Regions from separate parts of the Homo sapiens genome. Here region 1 is linked to region 2. Evidence: fine-mapped expression QTL. A gene starts in region 2. The other region holds a variant in brackets. All regions are shown on one strand. Distances are from middle to middle.

Region 1 (5,380 bases), 24 kb after region 2:
TTTATGAAAATAAAAGATTTGAGTCTCAGCCTCCTGAGTAGCTGGGACTACAGGCACATGGCATCATGCCCAGCTAATTTTTTATATTTTTTGTAGAGATGGGGTCTCACCGTGTTGCCCAGGCTGGTCTTGAACTCCTGGACTCAAGAGATCCACCGCCTTGGCCTCCCAAAGTGCTGGGATTACAGGCGTGAGCCACCATGCCCAGCCAAATTTATATTTTATATGTATTATTTTTTAATGAATTAAGTATAAATGGGACTCCTTGGTATTTGTTATTCATTTACTGATTCAACAAATATTTATCAAGTATGTACCACATTCCATTAAAGGAGCTAAATGCCTGAATTCAAAAATACATAAAACACAGTGCTTGCCTTCAATGCAATCACAATCCAGTGCCTTTACTTTGCAGAAAGGATGATGTCATCTCCTCAGGGAACTCCTTTTATTGTCTTCCTCGGCACTTTACAGTCAGAACATAAATTAATATTAAAATCAGAATCAAGAGAATATGTTTTTCCCTGTATCCTATATTCTTATAATTAATTATAGGCCATCTTAGTAGTTATTTTAATGTAGAAGCTAAAGTAAGAGACTAGTTAGGCCGGGTGGCTCACGCCTGTAGTCCCAGCACTTTGGGAGACTGAGACAGGTGAATTGCTTGAGCTCAAGAGTTCGAGACCAGCCTGGGCAACATGGTGAAACCCTGTCTCTACTAAAAATACAAAAATTAGCCCGGCATGGTGGCACATGCCTGTAGTCCCAGCTACTCAGGAGAGGTGAGGTGGGAGGATTGCTTGAGCCCAGGAAGTCAAGTTTGCAGTCAGCCATGATCACACCACTACACTGCAGCCTGGGCAACAGAGCAAGACCCTGTCTCAAAAAATAAAAAATAAAAATAAAGAGACTAGTTAATTCATCTGAGCAGTTACCTTAAAAATACATATTTACTTAGGAAATAGTAGGAATTTTTTTAAAAAAGAAAAATACCTATTTACAAACAAGATAAATAAACAAAATGTTTCCAGAATTCTATTCTGATACTCAAACACACAAGACACTCACTGGTAGGCAAGTTAGCTATTATTTTTATTATTCACATACAATCATTTGCCAAAATCCCTTGCCAACTTCAGAAGAATTCTCAAAAACTGACTCTGTGGTGCATCACTAAAGAAATCTCATAAATGCTTCTAAAATCTTGATTTCTTAGCCTTTTTCCATCACTAAAGCCTACCATTAAATTGCAGTCATCTAAAAAAGAATAGAGTGGCCAGGTGCAATGGCTCACACATGTAATCCCAGCACTTTGGGAGGCGGATCACAAGGTCAGGAGTTCAAGACCTGCCTGGCCAGCATAGTGAATTCCCATCTGTACCAAAAATACAAAAATTATCTGGGCATGGTAGCAAGCACCTGTAATCCTAGCTACTCGGGAGGCTAAGGCAGGAGAATTGTTTGATCCCAGGAGGCAGAGGTTGCAGTGAGCCGAGATCGCACCACTGCACGCCAGCCTAGGTGACGGAGCAAGACTCCATGTCCAAAAAAAAAAGAAAAAAAGAGTAGAGCCCAGGAATAGACTCTACATAAGCAACAATCTAGGTTTTAATCCTTGCTGTTTATTGTCTCCAAAATACATTTAAAAGTGAATTAATTAAAAATACTTTTAATGTTATTCAAAAGGATAACACCAATTGAAAAACCTCATGTGAGTATAAAATCAACAGCTGATTCGAAATGGCACATGGAAAATGTGTAGCCTTTCATCATGAAAAATGTCTAACCTTGTGATAGCACCAGAGTTGCAATCCTTTGCAAAGGATTCTGTTAACATATTTAATATTCCATGATAAATAAGGATCTGTGGTAGTTGACAAGCTTAAAGGAGAGCAAATGTGTAGATGACATACTTCCTAAGGTTCTTATCAGCTCTGAATTCTATAACAAGACAGAAATATTTGGTATAGTTCATCCTATTATTTTTGCTGTTGTTCATTCTCATTCCATCATGATTATAATTGTGTGACTTTATTATTGTGAGTTCCCTAAAATTTGCTAACTCCTTTCTCTAGCCACTTGTACCTAAAGGTTTACACTTTCTTTTTAGGGTCTCATTTTCTATACTGAATGGCCCCATGGCCACAATGAAGAAAGTCACCCTCACACTCTTAAATAATCACATCATTTTTATTGGCTTTGGTTTTTATACTTTTAAATGTATAACCATTCTAAGTAGCTAAGAAAACTGTTCATGGCTTAGCAGTTTTGCAGAACAATAT[A/G]ATCAAGAACACAGAAACATCCTTCTCATGGTTCCAACAGTCTCTCTATAACCACACTCCTTACAGAAAACATGTAAATGTAGAAAGATAAGATACATAACCACAAGCTTCACTACCATTTTTGTCTCCTCTATGATAACACACTGTGTCGGTTCACTCTTCTATCTATGTGGCTGCTGAAAGGTCCACCACTTCTCCTGTTTCTTCTTCTTTGGTTTCAGCCCCTTCACTCACTTTCTCATTCTCCATGTCTGTTTCCACCTTTTCCCCTGTCTCACCTGGAAAAGTAACCAAAGGAGATACTAAGAGACATTTATTTAGAATTAACATAAATTATCCCACAGTTTGTCTCCAATGGGGGCAGTTCTTGATCTTCAGGTCTAAGCAGTAAGTTTCTCTGGGGGTATCAAGAAAAGTAATCATCTCAGCTGGGCACCGTGGCTAACACCTGTAATCCAACACATTGGGAGGCCAAGGAAGGCGGATTGCCTGAGGTCAGGAGTTCAGGAGCCTAGCCCAAAGTAATGAAACCCCGTCTCTACTAAAAATACAAAAATTAGCTAGGCATGGTGGCACAAGCCTGTAATCCCAGCTACTCGGGGGGCTGAGGCAAGAGAATCACTTGAAGCCGGGAGGCAGAAGTTGCAGTGAGCTGAGATCACGCCACTGCACTCCAGTCTGGGCGACAGAACGAGACTCTGTCTCAAAAAAAAAAAAAAAAGGAAAAGAAAAGTAATCATCTCGATTCTCTCAGAGCCTCTGAATGGCTGAAATGTCGAGTCAATTAACATCTCGAGTCTTGGCATACTCTTATGAAAGAAATGCTCTCTATAAAATCAGGATGCAAAATTACCAAAGAAATGGTGGTAGAACAGATTATAATAGAAAGTTCATGGCCAGGTGTGATGGTTCCCACCTGTAATCCCAATGCTTTGGCAAGCTGAGGCAAGAGGATCACTTGAGGCCAGGAGTTCAAGACCAGCCTGGGCAACAAGACCTCCTGTCTTTACAAAATATTTTTCAAAAATTAGCTGGACAGCTGGGCGTGGTGGCTCACGCCTATAATCCCAGCAATTTGGAAAGCTGAGGCAGGCAGATTGCTTGAGCCTAGGGTCTGAGACCGGCCTGGCCAACATGGTAAAACCTTGTTTCTACAAAAAATACAAAAATTAACCAGGGATGGTGGCGCCCAGCTACTCAGGAGGCCGAGGAGGGAGAATGGATTGAGCTGGGAGGCAGAAGTTACAATGAGCTAAGAATACCACTGCACTCCAGCCTGAGTAACAGAGCAAGACTCTGTCTCAAAAGTAATAATTTTTTAAAAGAAAAAAAAATTAGCCAGGCATGGTGGCACATTCCTGTAGTCCTAGCTACTTGAGAGCTGGGGCAAGAGGATCCCTTCAGTCCAGGAGTTGGAGATTATAGTGAGCTGTGATTGCATCACTGCACTCCAGCTTGAAGATCTTGTCTCGAAAGGAAGGAAGGAAGGAAGGAAGGAAGGAAGGGGAGAGAGAGAGAGAAGAAAAAGAAAGAAAAAAGAAAGAAAGAAGAAAGAAAGAAAGGAAGAAAGAAAGAAAGGAAGAAAGAAAGAAAGAAAGGAAAGAAAGAAAGAAAGAAAGAAAGAAAGAAAGAAAGAAAGAAAGAAAGAAAGAAAGAAAGAAAAAGAAAAAGAAAGAAAAAGAAAGTCTAATTTGTATCTAAATCAAAGGGTGGTCCAGGGGTGCCCCTAAACCTGTCTGGCTTGGCCATTATGTGTTTAAAAACAATCGTTAAACATTTACAGACAGCCAACACTAACAAGTCTGGACATTGCACACACTTGCAGGAAACCCTGTTTCCCTGAGAAGTTGGCTTTGGCAACATTGGCCCTAGTTCCATGGCTGGAGCTGTGCGGAGCTTCCTCTTTTGACAAGGCTGTGCTCTCCTGTTTGCCAAGGTCCCCTGGGCTCCCACAGTATGACATGTGTCCTTCACCTCACTCATTTTCAGTATCCTAGGCCTAAAGACTTTTGAGTTTGCCAATCCTGATGTAAAAACTACCTGCTTTTATTTGCCTCTCCCAAGTTGTTCCCAGGGCCCTTCTTACACATTCTTAGGAAAGCAGTTCCCACAACAGACTATGGTGATGCACGCACATCCTGCCTTCCCACACTAGACAGTGAGCCCCTTGAGGACAGAGACTATCTCTTCCTCAGTCTGCATCTCAGCACCTAGCATATGTTTAGGCATGCCAAAAAATGCTGAGTTAATAAATGAAAGAATTGGCCAGACATGGTGGCTCATGCCTGTAATCCCGGCACTTTGGGAGGCCGAGGCGGGTGGATCATGAGGTCAGGAGCTGGAGACCAGCCTGGCCAATGTGGTGAAACCCCGTCTCTACTAAAAATACAAAAACTAGCCGGGCATGGTGGTGTGCGCCTGTAGTCCCAGCTACTCAGGAGGCTGAGGCGGGAGAATCGCTTGAACGCAGAAGGTGGAGGTTGCAGTGAGCCGAGATCACTTCACTGCACTCCAGCCTGGGCAACAGAGCAAGACTCCATCTCAAAAAATAAATAAATTAATTAAATAAAATAAATAAATGAAAGAATTAAACAAAAACAGATGGATGATTATAATGAATGCTTCACTTAAGTATACTGAACTGTGAAGCTAAAATTTACCAAAATGTAAATCATACCCCAGAAGAAAATATTTTTTTAAATTATAACACCAATAAAGAACACTGTAAACATCATTTGTTTTATGCTGGTAAAATACAGTTAAAATTTTAAAACACCATATGCTAAGACATAGTACATTTTCTCTGGTCTTCTCATACAGATTTTAAAACTGCAGAAGAACAAGAGCAGACTGACAGTCATTTTCTTTTTCCTTTTTTCTTTCTTTTTTTTTTTTTTTCTGGAGAACAAGGTCTCACTATGTTGCCCAGGCAGGTCATGAACTGCTGGGCTCAAGCTATCCTCCCACCTCTGCCTCCTGAAGTGCTGGGATTACAGGTGTGAGCCACTGCACCCTGTCCTGACAGTCATTTTCTAAGATAAGCTTCACAAAGATGAAAATAACATTCTAAGATCCATTATGTATATATCATTTCATTG
Region 2 (5,380 bases):
CATTACTGCACTCCAGCCTGGGTGACAGAGCAAGACCCTGTCTCAAAAAAAAAAGTTTCCAGAAGGAATCTTAACTCTTACCTTCACCTTCAAGTCAGTTTTGTCAAACTTTAATAAGCACTAAATATGTGCTGCCTTTATAAAAATATTTTCGCCAAATCTTCAAATAAAATGGATACGTTATGTTTTCTGATACAGCTTAGTATCCTCTGGCCAGACACAACCTTTGGTGTTAGTTAGTTCCCAGTTTGAGAACCTGGGAACTAACTAGATGATGTCTATTTTCTTCCAGATCTAAAAAGTTGGTGATTCAGACTTGATATAAAATCTGTCTTAAGAATAAAGGTACCTTGTTTCACAAGAAATATTTTACACAAGTTGAATCATTTGTAATGCTCCAAAATAGCTTCTTATTTAAAAACTTAAATGGTGAATTATTTTGTAAATAAAAATATGTCTTAATTATCTAGTTTAATCAGATTTAATAAACTTTTGGGCACCTACTATGTGCCCAATAGTTTCAGGCTGTGTATAATTCCAAAGTAGAATAAGAATTTTGTCATCTTAGGCAGCATTGAGAACTTGATGTGGCAGGCACTATTCTACATGACTTATTCATTTAATTCTCACAACTCTGTGGTCACTAGTATTATTCTCATCTTATAAATGAAGAAATCGAAGCACAGAGATTTTATATACCAGTCCAAGGCTACTAAGCTTGTGATTGTGCTGAGATTCAAACCAGGCAGTCTGACTCTATCCACTATTCTTTTTTTTTTTTCCACCCCTTCCCTCTCCAATCCACTATTCTTGAAACACATAACAATTAGAAAATAGGATCTCATATAATAAAATACTAAATTATGCGGTACAGCACAATAGGAAACAGGACAAGGGAAAGAAAAAAAATGAGGCCGGGCATAATGGTTACACCTGTAATCCCTGCACTTTGGGAGGCTGAGGTGGGAGAATTGCTTGAGCCCAAGAGTTGGAGACCAGCCTGGCCAATATGAAGAAGCCCCGTCTCCACAGAAAATACAAAAATTAGCCGGGCGTGCTGGTGTGCACTTGTAATCCCAACTACTTGAGATGCTCAGGCTGGAGGATTGCTTCAGCCCAGGAGGTCAAGGTTTCAGTGAGCCAAGATCATGCCACTGTACTCCAGCCAGGGTGACAGAGTGAGATCCTGTCTTGAAAGAAAGAAAACAAAGAAAAAGAAAAGGAAAGGAAGGAAAGAAGAAAAAGAAAAAAATGTGAATTGGTAGGAAAAGTCAAAGAGAAAATAGAATTTCAGTTAGCTGGAATTTGCACAGATAAGGAAGAAAGAGTATTCAGGAATCCACAGTGTGAATACAGGAGGACTCTAGTGGGAAAAGGGAGTAGATGACAATGAAACTTGAATAGGCAAGGGGAGGCCAGACTGAAAGGTCTTTTATTCCAGGCCCCAAACCAATGAAAAAGATCAGAAGGTTCCTGAGCCGGAAGTAGGAAGGCCAAAACCTTAGCAGTATGTAGGACAAAATGAGAGGGAATAAAGCAGATTTTCTTGTATTATCTTTAGGAAGCAGGGAAGGCAGAGATTTTATTATTATTTTTTTTAACTGTTGCATTCCTCCTAGCATCTAGCAGAGTGCCTTACACAAAGTAGGGACTCATATATCTATGAGTGCCCGCATAAATGAAGAAACGAAGCGTACTTACAATGCAAATATTAACAGGATAAGAAATATTTAGCCAAGTACCACCCCTTCTGACACAGCAGAATACTTACAAGGGATCTGGGCCATTCCAGATCACCATCTTTCTTTCTGAAATGATATCCCAATCACTAGGGCTCTGTTCAGACAGTGACCTTGTAAAGCCCGAGGAGCACCCTAGAGAAGGGAACACAGGAGGAGCAGGAAAGGGAACACGGGAGGACCAACGCCCAGATCTCAGCGTGGTCGCCAGAATGACCCATATTAGTCATTTGGGGTTGCAGAAGAGGGGATGCAAGCCCATTCCCAGGACGGCCTCCACCCGGCGGGGCAATGAAGGGAAATGACTGACGTAGGGGGCTCCAGCGCAGGGGCCGAAGGAGATGCGACACCAGGGAGAGGGGCCCCGGGCACAGGCAGCAAGGAAAGAGGTCAGCGGAGTCTGAGAGAGAAACGATGAAGAGGGGAGACGGGCGCCGGGAGGGGGGCCGCCGCATACAGTTCCCCCGACACTCGCATCCTGGAAGGCACCAGCCCCTCACGACCAACCTGCCAGACGCTGTGAGGAATCCCCGGGTCAGAATGACAAGCCTCCGCGACAGTACCCACCGAGCCAAAGCTCCTGGAGAGCGCGCTGGAGAGCGCATGCGCCAGACCGGGCGCTTCCTCCACGTGGCCTGGAGCGTCGCCGAAACTACAGTTCCCAGAATGCCGCACGAGCCCGCCCCCAGCGGGAGCTGTGGGGCAGAGGCGCTGCTGTGGTTGGTCAGTCCAGTAAGAAGCCAGCAGGGCTGGTGCTGGGGCTTCTTCTCCTGAAGGGGCTGCAAGAGGGAAGGCTTAGCCATGTCGTCCTTGATCAGAAGGGTGATCAGCACCGCGAAAGCCCCAGGGGCCATTGGACCCTACAGGTAACGTGGCTGGTGGAAGCTGTGTCGGACCCAGGGCGTGCGGGTTCGGGGATTCGGGGTTGGGGCCACTCCGGGCCGGAGCCCCAGCTAACACGCAAGGAAATTGAGCCTGGAAAGTAAGCAACGCGCCCGAAGACCCACAGAGAGTTGGGAGCCACGATGGGACCAGGAACCTGCACTCCATGGGACTTTGCTCGTTCTGGGGCTGCCTCGCTGCGGAGCACAGCCTGCCAGAAAGCTCTCCCCAGTTAGAAGCCTTCAGACCCTGTGTTTTGTTTTGGGGGAGGGGGTCGTTTTTGTTTTCTTGGTAACAGCTTTATTGAGATATAATTCACGTACCGTAAGATTCACCCCCTTTAACATGTACAATTCAGTGGTTTTGACCATACTCACAGAGTTGTGCAGCCATCACCACTTTCTTCAGAACATTTTCATCACCCCAAAAATAAATCCCATCCCCATTAGCATTCACTCCCCATTCTCCTCTCCCCCGGCCCCTGACAATCTACTTGCATCTTCATGGATTTGCTTGTTGTGGACATTTCCTATAAATTGAATCATAAAACATGCAGTCCTTTATGACCAACTTCTTTCATTAGCTTCATACTTGGTCTGCCTCTCTCCCAACTGAAAAGAGCCCCATCAACAGCTCCCTCCTTTAAACCTACTGCTGTGAGAAAAGGCACTGAGATGTGGCAGAACAGGAATTATTATAGAAAACTTGGAAATAAATAAAATGCAGTAGAAGTGAGAGGGCAAGTGGGGTAGGGAGTAAAGGAGAAAAAAGACAAATTGATTTTAACTTGGGGTGGAAGAGGAAAAAGAAGATTTAGGAAGGTTCCTTGTGAGAGGTAGTCCTTTGGTTTTGAAGGTTGGTTTTGTCATTTATAGTAGTGTTGTAAAGTTTGATTTTTAAATTAATTTATTAAGGATTTCAACAGGAAGTCATTGAGTGAAGGGCATGGAGGTAGAAGTCAGGTAGAGGGAATGGCTTGAGTGAGGGCATGGAGGTAGAAGAATGCATGGTATAAAGATTTTGGGGAGAAAGTTTTCATAATTCAAGTGCTACTTCTGTCTTTTTTGTTTGTTTGTTTGCCAAATCTGTATATCACTTATAATTTACTTAACCTATTTCTTTGAGATGGCTCACTTCATTTTATTTAACAAGTTAATTGAAAAAGGAAACTTTACAACAGTACACTAAATAGAAAACAATTCAATAGAAAGTAATAGTAAAAAATAAACTCAATTAAAAAAAGGTATTATTAAATTTTAGCTAGATATTGCAGTTGGCTCAAAACCTGAGGCCTGCTCTCTCTTTGTTAAGAGTGATGTTTCTTTAGCCGGGTACTGTGGTTCACGCCTGTAATCCCAGCACTGTGGGAGGCCGAGGTAAGAGGATTGCTTGAGGTCAGGAGTTCAAGACCAGCCTGGGCAACATAGTGAGACCCCCATCTCTATTTAAAAAAAAAAAAAAGTTTAATTAAAAACTTTCAAGTGATGTTTTAATTTGTTTTCTAAAGATGATTTTTTTTCTCCTTAATGTAATCAAACGGGGTAGAGTCATCATTGCTAACATTTACTGATGCTTACTCAGCAGCATTGGGCACTATCCCTTTTTTTTTTTTTTTTTTTTTTTTTTTGGAGGCAGAGTCTCACTCTGTTGCCCAGGCTAGAGTGCAGTGGTGCAATCTCAGCTCACTGCAACCTCCACCCCACAGATTCAAGTGATTCTCATGTCTCAGCCTCCCAAGTAGCTGGGATTACAGGCAGGTGCCACCACACCCGGCTAATTTTTGTATTTTTAGTAGAGACAGGGTTTCACTGTGTTGGTCAGGCTGGTATTGAACTCCTGACCTAAAGCGATCCACCTACCTCGGCTTCCCAAAGTACTCGGATTACAGGTGTCAGCCACCATGCCTGGCCAGCACCAGGCACTGTTCTAAGTTATTTATGTGCATGGTTATATTATAGTCCCTATTTTTCAGATGAAGAAACTGATGTGTGCAAAATTAAATAATTTGCCAAAAGTTACACCACTAAAAAGTGATGTAACAAAATTTGAATTTAGGAAATGGGTACTAGAGCCTAGTCTTAATCATTTACTTTGTTGTCCCTGGTGTAGATTGAAAAAAAAAATTGGAAAAGGAATCATTTTCTTACTATGTAAGACTGTGTATAAGTCTTACTGTGTATGACTGACTCCTTTGAGAAATACTGATTAAGAGTTGGACTTTGGATTTGAATTTTTGTTTTGCCTCTTTTTAATTATATGATCTTGCAGAGTGACTTAACCTCTCTTAGTTTGCTTCTTTGTCTTCTCAATGGGCATAAATAATACCATTTGATAAGATTATTGTGGGAATTAAATAAAAGTGACCAACAAAAATTAGATTTTGGCCAGGCACAGTGGTTCACACCTGTAATCCCAGCACTTTGGGAGGCCGAGGCAGGTGGATCACAAGCTCAGGAGTTCAAGACCAGCCTGGCCAAGATGGTGAAACCCCGTCTCTACTAAAAATACCAAAAAAAAAAAAAAATTAGCTGGGTATAGTGGCGTATGCCTGTAATCTCAGCTACTCGGGAGGCTGAGGCAGTGAATTGCTTGAACCTGGAAGGCAGAGGTCGCGGTGAGCCAAGATCGCACCACTGCACTCCAGCCTGGGCTACAGAGCGAGACTCTGTCTCAAAAAAAAAAAAAAAAGATTTTAGCAGGGTACAGGTTGTGGTGGTTTCCAATACTAAATGGAAGAATATAAACTTTATTTTGTATAT

Direction of the effects. Alleles are on the strand shown, and positions count from the first base shown. SD is a standard deviation of normalised expression in the study named.
In carriers of allele G in region 1, the expression in unexposed skin of the gene that starts at base 2,466 in region 2 tends to be lower than with A alone (small effect, 0.28 SD a copy in GTEx).

The links.
Region 1: its variant is fine-mapped to the expression of RIDA in unexposed skin (GTEx, PIP 0.98).

The regions. Positions count from the first base shown.
Region 1 is chr8:98,090,401-98,095,780 of GRCh38, reverse strand. ERICH5 (glutamate rich 5) reads right to left here. Exons shown (of 3, transcript NM_173549.3): 3 at 2,172-2,560. The coding sequence ends at 2,448. Among named protein-coding and RNA genes, the nearest start is that of RIDA, 24 kb to the left of the region's middle. The variant A/G (reference allele first, on the strand shown) is at 2,283.
Region 2 is chr8:98,114,257-98,119,636 of GRCh38, reverse strand. It overlaps RIDA (reactive intermediate imine deaminase A), which reads left to right and starts at 2,466. Exons shown (of 6, transcript NM_005836.3): 1 at 2,466-2,605. The coding sequence starts at 2,541. POP1 (POP1 ribonuclease P/MRP subunit) reads right to left here and starts at 2,344. Exons shown (of 16, transcript NM_001145860.2): 1 at 2,247-2,344. RefSeq lists enhancers at 2,072-2,241, 2,312-2,361.